Linked DNA regions of Homo sapiens: region 2 is linked to region 1. A link means that fine-mapping ties the variant in region 1 to the expression of a gene that starts in the linked region. Tissue or cell type: nasal epithelium. Region 1 holds a variant in brackets; the other region holds the start of a gene. All regions are shown on one strand. Distances are between the middles of the regions.

What was found.
Region 2: it holds the start of VWA3B, and the variant in region 1 is fine-mapped to the expression of VWA3B in nasal epithelium (TOPMed, PIP above 0.99).

What each region holds. Positions count from the first base shown.
Region 1 is chr2:98,161,152-98,165,544 of GRCh38, reverse strand. VWA3B (von Willebrand factor A domain containing 3B) reads right to left here. Exons shown (of 28, transcript NM_144992.5): 8 at 2,569-2,694. Among named protein-coding and RNA genes, the nearest start is that of VWA3B, 76 kb to the right of the region's middle. RefSeq lists an enhancer at 2,019-2,565. The variant C/A (reference allele first, on the strand shown) is at 2,569.
Region 2 is chr2:98,084,575-98,088,967 of GRCh38, reverse strand. It overlaps VWA3B (von Willebrand factor A domain containing 3B), which reads right to left and starts at 1,801. Exons shown (of 28, transcript NM_144992.5): 1 at 1,605-1,801. RefSeq lists enhancers at 1,072-1,572, 1,607-1,676, 1,573-2,073.

The DNA of each region.
Region 1 (4,393 bases):
CTGCCCTCTGCACCTCTGTAACCCAGGAGGCACTGCAGCCTGGCAGTGGTTCCAAAATTAGCTGCACACTAGGATCACCCGGGGAGCTTTCAAAAGTCCCAATGTCATCCCATAGGGATTAAATCAGGATGATTTAATCAGACATCCTGATTACATGTCCGGTGGGTGGGAAGCAGATATCAGTATTTTTACTGGTGGACTAGGTTTTGAATCTAGGCTTCATCATCTCATTAGCTGTGTAGCCTTGGGCAAGTTACTGAAGCCAAAACGGAGATAATACTAGCAGTAGCACCTGTCTCTTAAGATTGTAGCAAATATGAAATGAGCTAACGCTCATAAGGAGCCTTAAACAGTGCCTGATGTGTAAGGTATGTGCGTCCACCAGGTGTGCCCCAAAGGAAACCAGCACCTTACAGAGGAAAGGCCATGCAGGAGAATCCGTGTACCAACTCCCCTAATTGTGAAAGGGCAAAGAATGCGCTGACATCAAGTCCCTGCTTGGTGTGGAGCATGCATCATTGTATTTTGTCTGTACAGTGGTTCCTCAGCATCAAGATTATGATAGTCGTTGTGCAGAAGAATAAGGCTAAAAGAGACAAACTCAGGTGGGTCTAGTGATGGAGCTGGGATTTATAACCAGGTCTTTCTCACCCCCAAACTCATGTCCATTGTTATGAAAAATGCTTTGGTTTATAAGAAAAAAAGGGAGAAAATATTTTGTGTAGTCTCAATGTCTTTCACTAGTAAAAATGCAGTGAGGTTGTTTGTATGGTGCAGTTGTGGGGCTGGAACCCATCAAACACCAAGAAGTGCTTTCATTTACTCAGAATAGGGTAGGTGCTAATTAAATCATGGAAACCAACATCAAGATGAGTACAGCCTCACTGCTAATATTTTTTTGTAAAAGTTTAGGCAGGAAAGTTGCTGTTCTGCATTTTGGGTTCAAAATCAGACTACGTTTGCTAGCTATGTGACCATGGCCAATGACTTAATCGCTCTGTAATTCAGTTTCCTCACCTGTCAGTTGGAGATAATAAGAAACTCCCTCATAGAGTTATGAGGCTTAAATGAGCTAAATATAGGCCTACCCCTCAGGGCAGCACCTGACACATAGTATGTGCCCATTCAGTGGTCATATTGCTGTTACTACCATTTAGGGAATGCAAATCAGTCTTCCAAACTCCAAAGTTTCAAGTGGCTATTCCAAATTAGATAGAAGAGTGTTAGGTGAATATCAGAAATGCAACTGGATTTTAATAATTTCTTTTTAATATTAATAACTCAAACCCCCATTCACACTACTCCTTCCAAGTAAACATTCCACACTTTTTCCCCAGCCTGTGTCCCCTTCTGCCGCAAGGTCCTGGACCCTGCTCAAAGAAAACTGATTTAGGCCTTCCTGTAGGCATCTGAGAGCAAGTCAGATGGTTGCCTGCACAGACACAGACAGCGTGGATGGGATTTTGTCTGCAGGCAAGGGTCAAGGCTGGCCGAGCCGATCACTGAGCTCTCCTGCTCCTCCTCCCTGGAAGAGCACCGGCAACTCGACAGTCTCCCCTTGCCCAGCCTTCAGCCAGGCTCCTCTGAATGCTCTTCTCAGCGAGGCCTCAACCTTTGCACTTCTATGCTCATCTCTGCATCGCCTGATTTTAGCAAAAAGCCTAAGTCAGTGTAGCCAGAATGCCCCACCCTCAGTATCTGATCGCTTTGCTATCTGATCCACATCCTCGTTCCCACCGTCCCCCAGGCGACATCTGATCACACTGGCCTCTCTCCTGAAAGAATCCTGTCAAGTTGGTTTAGCGAGAAGCCCCCCTGCCCTTAACATCTCCTCTTAATAATTTTCCATCCACTGGCGTCCCCCTGACCTTGGCTATGAATCCCCACTTGTCCATGTTGTACTCAGAATTGAGCCCAGTTTTATACAGAGGTCTGGTTTTCCTTAGTATACAAGAGTTTGTCAAGAATCTGTTTTGTTATTGTTATTGTTGTTGTTGTTGTTGTTTTTGAGACAGAGTCTCTCTCCATTGCTAGGCTGGAGTGCAGTGGCACGATCTCGGCTCACTGTGATCTCTGCCTCCCGGGTTCAAGCCATTCTCCTGCCTCAGCCTCCTGAGTAGCTGGGATTACAGGCACGGGCCACCACACCCAGCTAATTTTTGTATTTTCAGTAGAGACGGGGTTTCACCATGTTGGCCAGGATGGTCTCGATCTCCTGACCTCGTGATCCACCCGCCTCGGCCTCCCAAAGTGCTGGGGTAACAGGTGTGAGCCACCGCGCCCGGCCCAAGCATCTGTTTTTACCACTTTACTGTCCAGCTCTGGGTACTGACAATCTCCACATATGCACACATGTGAGCACGTGGGCACACACACACACACATGTCCATGCATGTGTGTTCAGCCCCCTCCCCACCCCTCACCCCACACAGCTCTGGCTGCTCTCCTCAGCAGCCCCTCGCAGCTGGGCTCTGGAGCTTCTCTGGTCAGGAACATGGAAGCAGCCCCTGGTCCCCAGCTAGTAACATTTATGAATCTTTTACACCAGTGACCAGAAATAGCACCAAC[C/A]GCAGTCCACAGTGGCCACGTCGGGCTTGGGAGGCTCGGCCACCAGCCTCTGGATCTGGGCCAGCGTGCTGCAGGCTTCCTCCATCTCTTGCCAAACGAGAAACACGTCCTCTCTGACTCCAGCTCCTAAAAGGGGAGACACAGCATGAGCGGCCGGCTGAGACAGGCCCAGGAATGTGGCAGCCCGCCTAGCAGGCCTGACGCATTGCAGCCAAGTTTCTGGAACATTTCTGAACATCAAATTCCGCTTCCCCCACTAATCTCTTTCTGAGAATCAGAACTGAAATCCCCAAGGAAGTGATATCATCTCAAGAAATCATAAATGCAGACTTTAGGATACAATAAATCCTTCTAAAGTAAATGTTTGTAGCAGCCAGAATATTTAAAATGAATTATTGATAATACCCAAATAAGATAGGAATAAAAACATTCAAAAGCACCTCACACAAGCCAGGGTCACCGCTGCGAGGAGGGGAAATGCAATGGAATGTTGTGAAAGCAACAACCCCTAATCCTTTCGCCATGTAGCCAAGGTGTCCTGCTTCTTTGAAACCACAGGTATAATATTTCCCCCAATGTAATAGTGATTGCCTGGTCTCCTTTTCTGGACCTCTACTGTCTCAGTTAAGGGATAGGTTTGACTCTATAACACTTTTTTAAAATGACATGGCACCATTAATTTAGATATTTATGTCTTTCAATCAATCGAAGTTCATGCCAAGGAGAGTGGTTTAGGGCTGGGATACAGGCTCTGCCTTCATCGAGATCCAGGCTCTAACAGATCAGCAGTTTCTAGATGTTGGGGCGGGTGGGCCGGGGGGAAATGGATGTGCACTCTGTGGTGTGCCATGCAGAGGTGCACGGTGAGAGGTCCTGTCCTGCTACCTTAACTGTATCAAAGTCAAGGTCCCAGCCATGCTGTGGTACTATGTTACTATGGGGGAAAGTGGGTAAAGAATAGATGGGCAGGCTGGGCACGGTGGCATACGCCTGTAATCCTGTAAAACTTTGGGAGGCCGAGGCGGGCAGATCAATGGAGGTCAGGAGTTCGAGACCAGGCTGGCCAACATGGTGAAACCCCGTCTCTACTAAAAATACAAAAATTAGCTGAGCGTGGTGGCCCGTGCCTGTAATCCCAGCTACTCAGGAGGCTGAGACAGGAGAATCACTTGAACTGGGGAGGCGGAGGCTGCAGTGAGCTGAGATCACACCACTGCACTCCAGCTCAGGAGACAGAGTGAGACTCCAGCCCAGGAGACAGAATGAGACTCCATCTTGAAATAAATAAATAAATAGATAAATAGATAAATAATAGATGGGCATCTCCCTGTATCACTTATTACCACTGCCTGTGAATCTATAATTATCTCAAAATAAAAAGGTTAATTTTTAAAATCTTGAAAACAGATCCACACTCTTTCTATCCTGCTCCTCGGTCATCTCAGCACATCCTTCTGTCTTCAGCCACCTTATGATTCAACATGGTGTCCTTAGTGCCAAGCAGCACGTCCTGAGCAGCAGGGCCACTGGGAGGACACAGAAGCACACCCCCTGATGGAGTCAGTTCCTTCGAGGCACCCTGCCCAGAAGGCCCACCCCACAGCTTCATTACTTAGCCACTGCCAGAATGGCATCACGCAGCCCCATCTGGCAGCAAGGGAAATTGAGAAATGCTTTTAGGCTGGGTATACTGCAACCCTAAGTAAAATTGGGGCTACAGCCTAAGGAGCAAGGGAGTGTATCTGGGTGGCAACTGGCAGTCCCTGCCCCTTGGCTGAGACATGTTCTGTCACCAAATACACCGAAAAGCCCCTTCCTCCCACTT
Region 2 (4,393 bases), 77 kb after region 1:
AGCCTGGCCAACATGGTGAAACCTCGTCTCTACTAAAAATACAAAAATTAGCCGGGCATGGTAACACACACGTGTAATCCCAGCTACTAGGGAGGCTGAGGCAGGAGAATTGCTTGAACCCAGGGGGCAGAGGTTGCAGTAAGCCAAGATTGCACCACTGCACTCCAGCCTGGGGGACAGAGCGAGACCCTGTCTCAAAAAAAAATAAAGGGGGATATATTATTTTCTGATAAAACTATGCTATTTATTTATTTATTTACTATTATTCAGAGTTTCCTCAGCTGAGGTTATTATAAATTGGGGAACCAAGTAACCCAGAAGTCGGAAACAACAACATACCGGAGTTGAGCATTGCCCTAAGTTTTAGAGGCCATCCCAAGAACCATACATAGAGTTTGGATAGGAAAGTATTTCCTTAGAAGAAGGAGGAAGTGTAAAAGGAAAAACAAGGAAGTGAAAGTCTGAGCTGAAAATGTGGGCAGGCAAAGCTTTGGGGAAAATAGAAAGGTTAAGCTGGCAACTGTACAAGGGCCCCGTCTACTGGAAGCAGATGCTCCTGGGCTGCCCTGGGCGACAGTCTTGTGAAGTCAGCATGCCCTCAGAGAAAAGGTCCTATGTGCTCGGAGGTTCAGGGACAGTGCAGGGTTGAGAGTCCATTAATCCAGTTTAGACATTCAATAAGCTTCTAGCTACTTTATTATCAACACCCCAAACTTCCTATACCCCTGTTAGTTTCTGAAAAAGAAGTCTGGGCTAGGTGGATATATATCTTGTGATTTAGGTGAATTTGTGAACGATGATTTTTCCAGGAAGAAAGGAAACTGGGACGAAGCTTCATGATGGATCCTGATGCAACTCTTCCCCAGAAACCCTTAAACCTCCTCCCATTTTTTCTGCCCTTAAGGGACAAGGCTTGGCTGTGATCATTGGCTCAAATAATGTGGACAGAGACAAGGATATTGAAACGGACTGTCCCACCGTTGAGAAAATAGTCAAGAAGGCAATATCTGAGAATAATTGGAGTGCTTTAGGAGGAAGGTCATTGCTGAGAAGAAACAGAGCTTCCAAGAAAATGAAAGGAAAAGCTCTACCAAATGGAAACTAAATCTACTTATTAAGTCTTATTTCCATATAAGGAGGGTGAAAGAAACTGATATGATTGTGAAACCATGTAAGTGTTGCTTTGGCTTTTAGACTATACATATTTATCCTTATGTTCAGGAAATGTGTTTCTTCTGGTTCCCATGTTCCCTCCAAAGCCCAGGTGGACTTCATCACCTTGAACTGCTGGCCTATGGCATAGACAGAAACTAGGAAAACCGCTTTTCCACCAGAGCGGCTGGGCGTGGGCTCGGGTGAGGTGTGATGGAAAGAGCTCTAGAGTAGGAGGGGTCGGTACCTTGACCCTCGGCTTGCCCTGGGTAGCGGACGATTAAGTGGGCCAGGGCAAGTCACCGAGCTTTCCTGGTACTGTTTCCGCATCTGTAAAGTGGGCGTGTAGTCCACCTCAGAAATGGCATTTTTCCAAGACCTCCCTAGGCCGCTTGTTGGAAGGCTCGGCACCTCGGCGGCTCTCGTGCGGCAGGCATCGCTCCCACACTTACTAGGCAATATGTCGGGTGGAAGACGTGGCGGCTCCCGCTCAGCAGCCACCCTCCCATCCTCCCGGGCCCGCCTGACCCGAGAGGGCGGGCGAGGTAAGCATCCCGCTGGTGGATAAGGCAGCGATTCCGGCGGGCGAAGGCTGCGCGCCGGGGGCGAAGGATTCCAGCTGTTCTAGGTCTCTGTGACCCGCGCCTCTGGTTCCGAGCGCGGTCTGTTGACGACGGCGTCTCCGCGGTTGCCTGGACACGGCCAATCACAGCGCGGCTCCTGGAGCCGGCCCCGCCCACAGACCGCGCCCTCACTGGGGCGATGGCTGCGGACCGTGGCCAAGAGGGCGGGGCGCCGAGGCCGTCACCGAGCCAGGTGCGGAAAGCCGGCGTCCGGAACCACCCGGGCCGGGACGACCTCCACCCCAGACCCCCAAACAGAGGCCACGCTAGAGGGACAGGGCGAGTGGCGTTGCCCCTTGCGCCTACTGTCAATGGGAAAATTAACAACAGCGGAGAATATGAATGAAAGAATGAATGAATTAACAAACAAATACACTGATGAGCTGGGGTAGAAATATAGGGTGCGAGCAGACAGGGGAGGAAGGCGCCAGAGGCCGAGGAGAGGCGAGGAGACTGCGGGAAACGCTACAAACGAACTTCTTTTCATACTTTTCAGCAGAGCATTGACCCCTGTGTAGTTTTAATTTTCACCTCACCACTGTCAGGCGATGCTCTCTTCCTTGCACAGTTCAGAGAAAGACGCTTTAAAAGAGGTGGGGCAGTTCGTTGTAGCTCAGCCACTGGACGTGGGCGGAGCTGAGACAGACAGAAGGGACAGGGAGCTGCAATTTTGCAATTGTGGAGGCAGGGGCTGCAGTTGCCAAGAATATTCTTACCTGTTTGACATGAATATTTCTATAGGCATTATTTTCTCCATTCAGCTTTGTTTTTAACCTTTGTTTCAGTGTTACCTTATCAATTAAGCAAAAGGCTCTAAATATTTTCCTATTTTTCCAGTCACCAGGAAATAAAATTGTGCTTATGAAAAGTATCTTTAAAGTCTTAATAAAAGACCCCACAGTAAGTATTGTTTTTAGGGTATTGGGATAGTAAACGATTTTAGATTTTAAAATTATAGAACTGACCAGATCATTTGCAGGTTTTTCAAAGAACTAATAAAACATAGTTAATGTTAGAACTGAGTAATTCTGTCCCCCCAAAAAAAGTCTGCTTCATCCACAGGAATTTATTTCTCCTGCATTCTTTTAATGCCTCTATCATTTAAAAAGTACTGAAAGATTTCATTCCATATCACAAATCATTCCTGGCAGTTATTAGTTTATATATATTTGGCCCTGCAAATGAAACCTGCCATCCACACCACCAAAAAACAAGCAAAAGCTTGATAGTACTGAAGACTGTTCAGAAGGGAGTAAAACACCAGCCTCGCCCATGTTTGCCAATGACCCATTAATCCTTGCTGTCCACACCCTGCCACACTAATATTCTTGGGTCACGGGGGTGAGACAGAGCACACAGCAACACATAGCCAAATGCCCTGCCTCACATGGTCACGCCAGGCACTCTTGTTCCCACCTTCACCCCATGCCTGCTCCTTTCCCTAGGACACTTGCCACATACGTGCAAGTCACCAAGATGATCTGTCCCTATCTTTCGTGTTTATGTGTCTATAAGCATACATTCTGTTGAAAATGTGAAACATTACTTACTTAAATTGTAGAATGATAAGTGAGTAGAAGTTTAAGGTTATTTTGAAGCATTAAATAGTTGGTATGGACTTCAGTTTAGCTAGTTACAGAATGGTTTGCCTCATTTTTATTGAGTTATTTGAAATAAGAAAACCTTTAGCACAGTGGTGATACACTACTATACTGAACTTTTGACAAATTTGTTTTGAGTTTACATTTTTACAGATAATTTGTATCTTTCCTTAAACCTCAGTAAGCGACATTGATCAAATCACTGCCATCTTTGATGTCAAACTTCTGGACTTTACCATTAAGGGCTCAAATTATACTTTCAGACTTTTGCTCATTGCCTCCAACACAAACCCCCATCCCAGAGAGACCCACCTGGTCCCTGCCTCTGAGCACAGATGACTTTACTCAGGCCACCCAGATTACCACAGTTTGGGAATCACCGTCCCTTCAGGGTCAGCTCTAGCTCTTCTCTCTCTCCCCAAAGCCCTCCCATGGATGCTGCGGCCCTAATAACTTCTCTCTACCTGTACAGTCTCAAAGCATTGCTTGCCAGTACCACACTCTTGGCAACCATGTACAAGCCTTTGACAAGCCTTTCGTTGTTATTTGACCTTTGTGCTGTTTACTTTTCAGGTTCAATGGGTTTTCCTTTTCTTTATACAAGTCTATCACTGCCACTGCTTGGGCTTATGGCCATGATCAGAATGTTTGGTGGAGGAGGGAGGGTGATAAAGGAAATGAAGGGAGGAAAAGCATTTTCCTAAGCCCACTGCAAAAACTGGAACCAGAGGAGACGGAGAATGTTAACTCCTTGTATATATGTGTGAGAAAGAACCTGAGCTGGAATTAAAACAGAGGCACTCCCTCTGAAGAGGAAGGAGAAACTGAGAGAGTGAGGCAGTTCCTGCTGAACCTTTGTTAGCTCTTGTGGTGAAGGGAGTTTTCGCCATCAGGGGCAGCCTTGGGAGAGGTAGGTGGGGACAGGGGCCATCACGGGGAGGTAGAGCTCAAACAGAGGTTTCTCTATGCTGTGATGTTCTTGAGTTCAGCATTCATTATTTGGGACAATGAATGTAG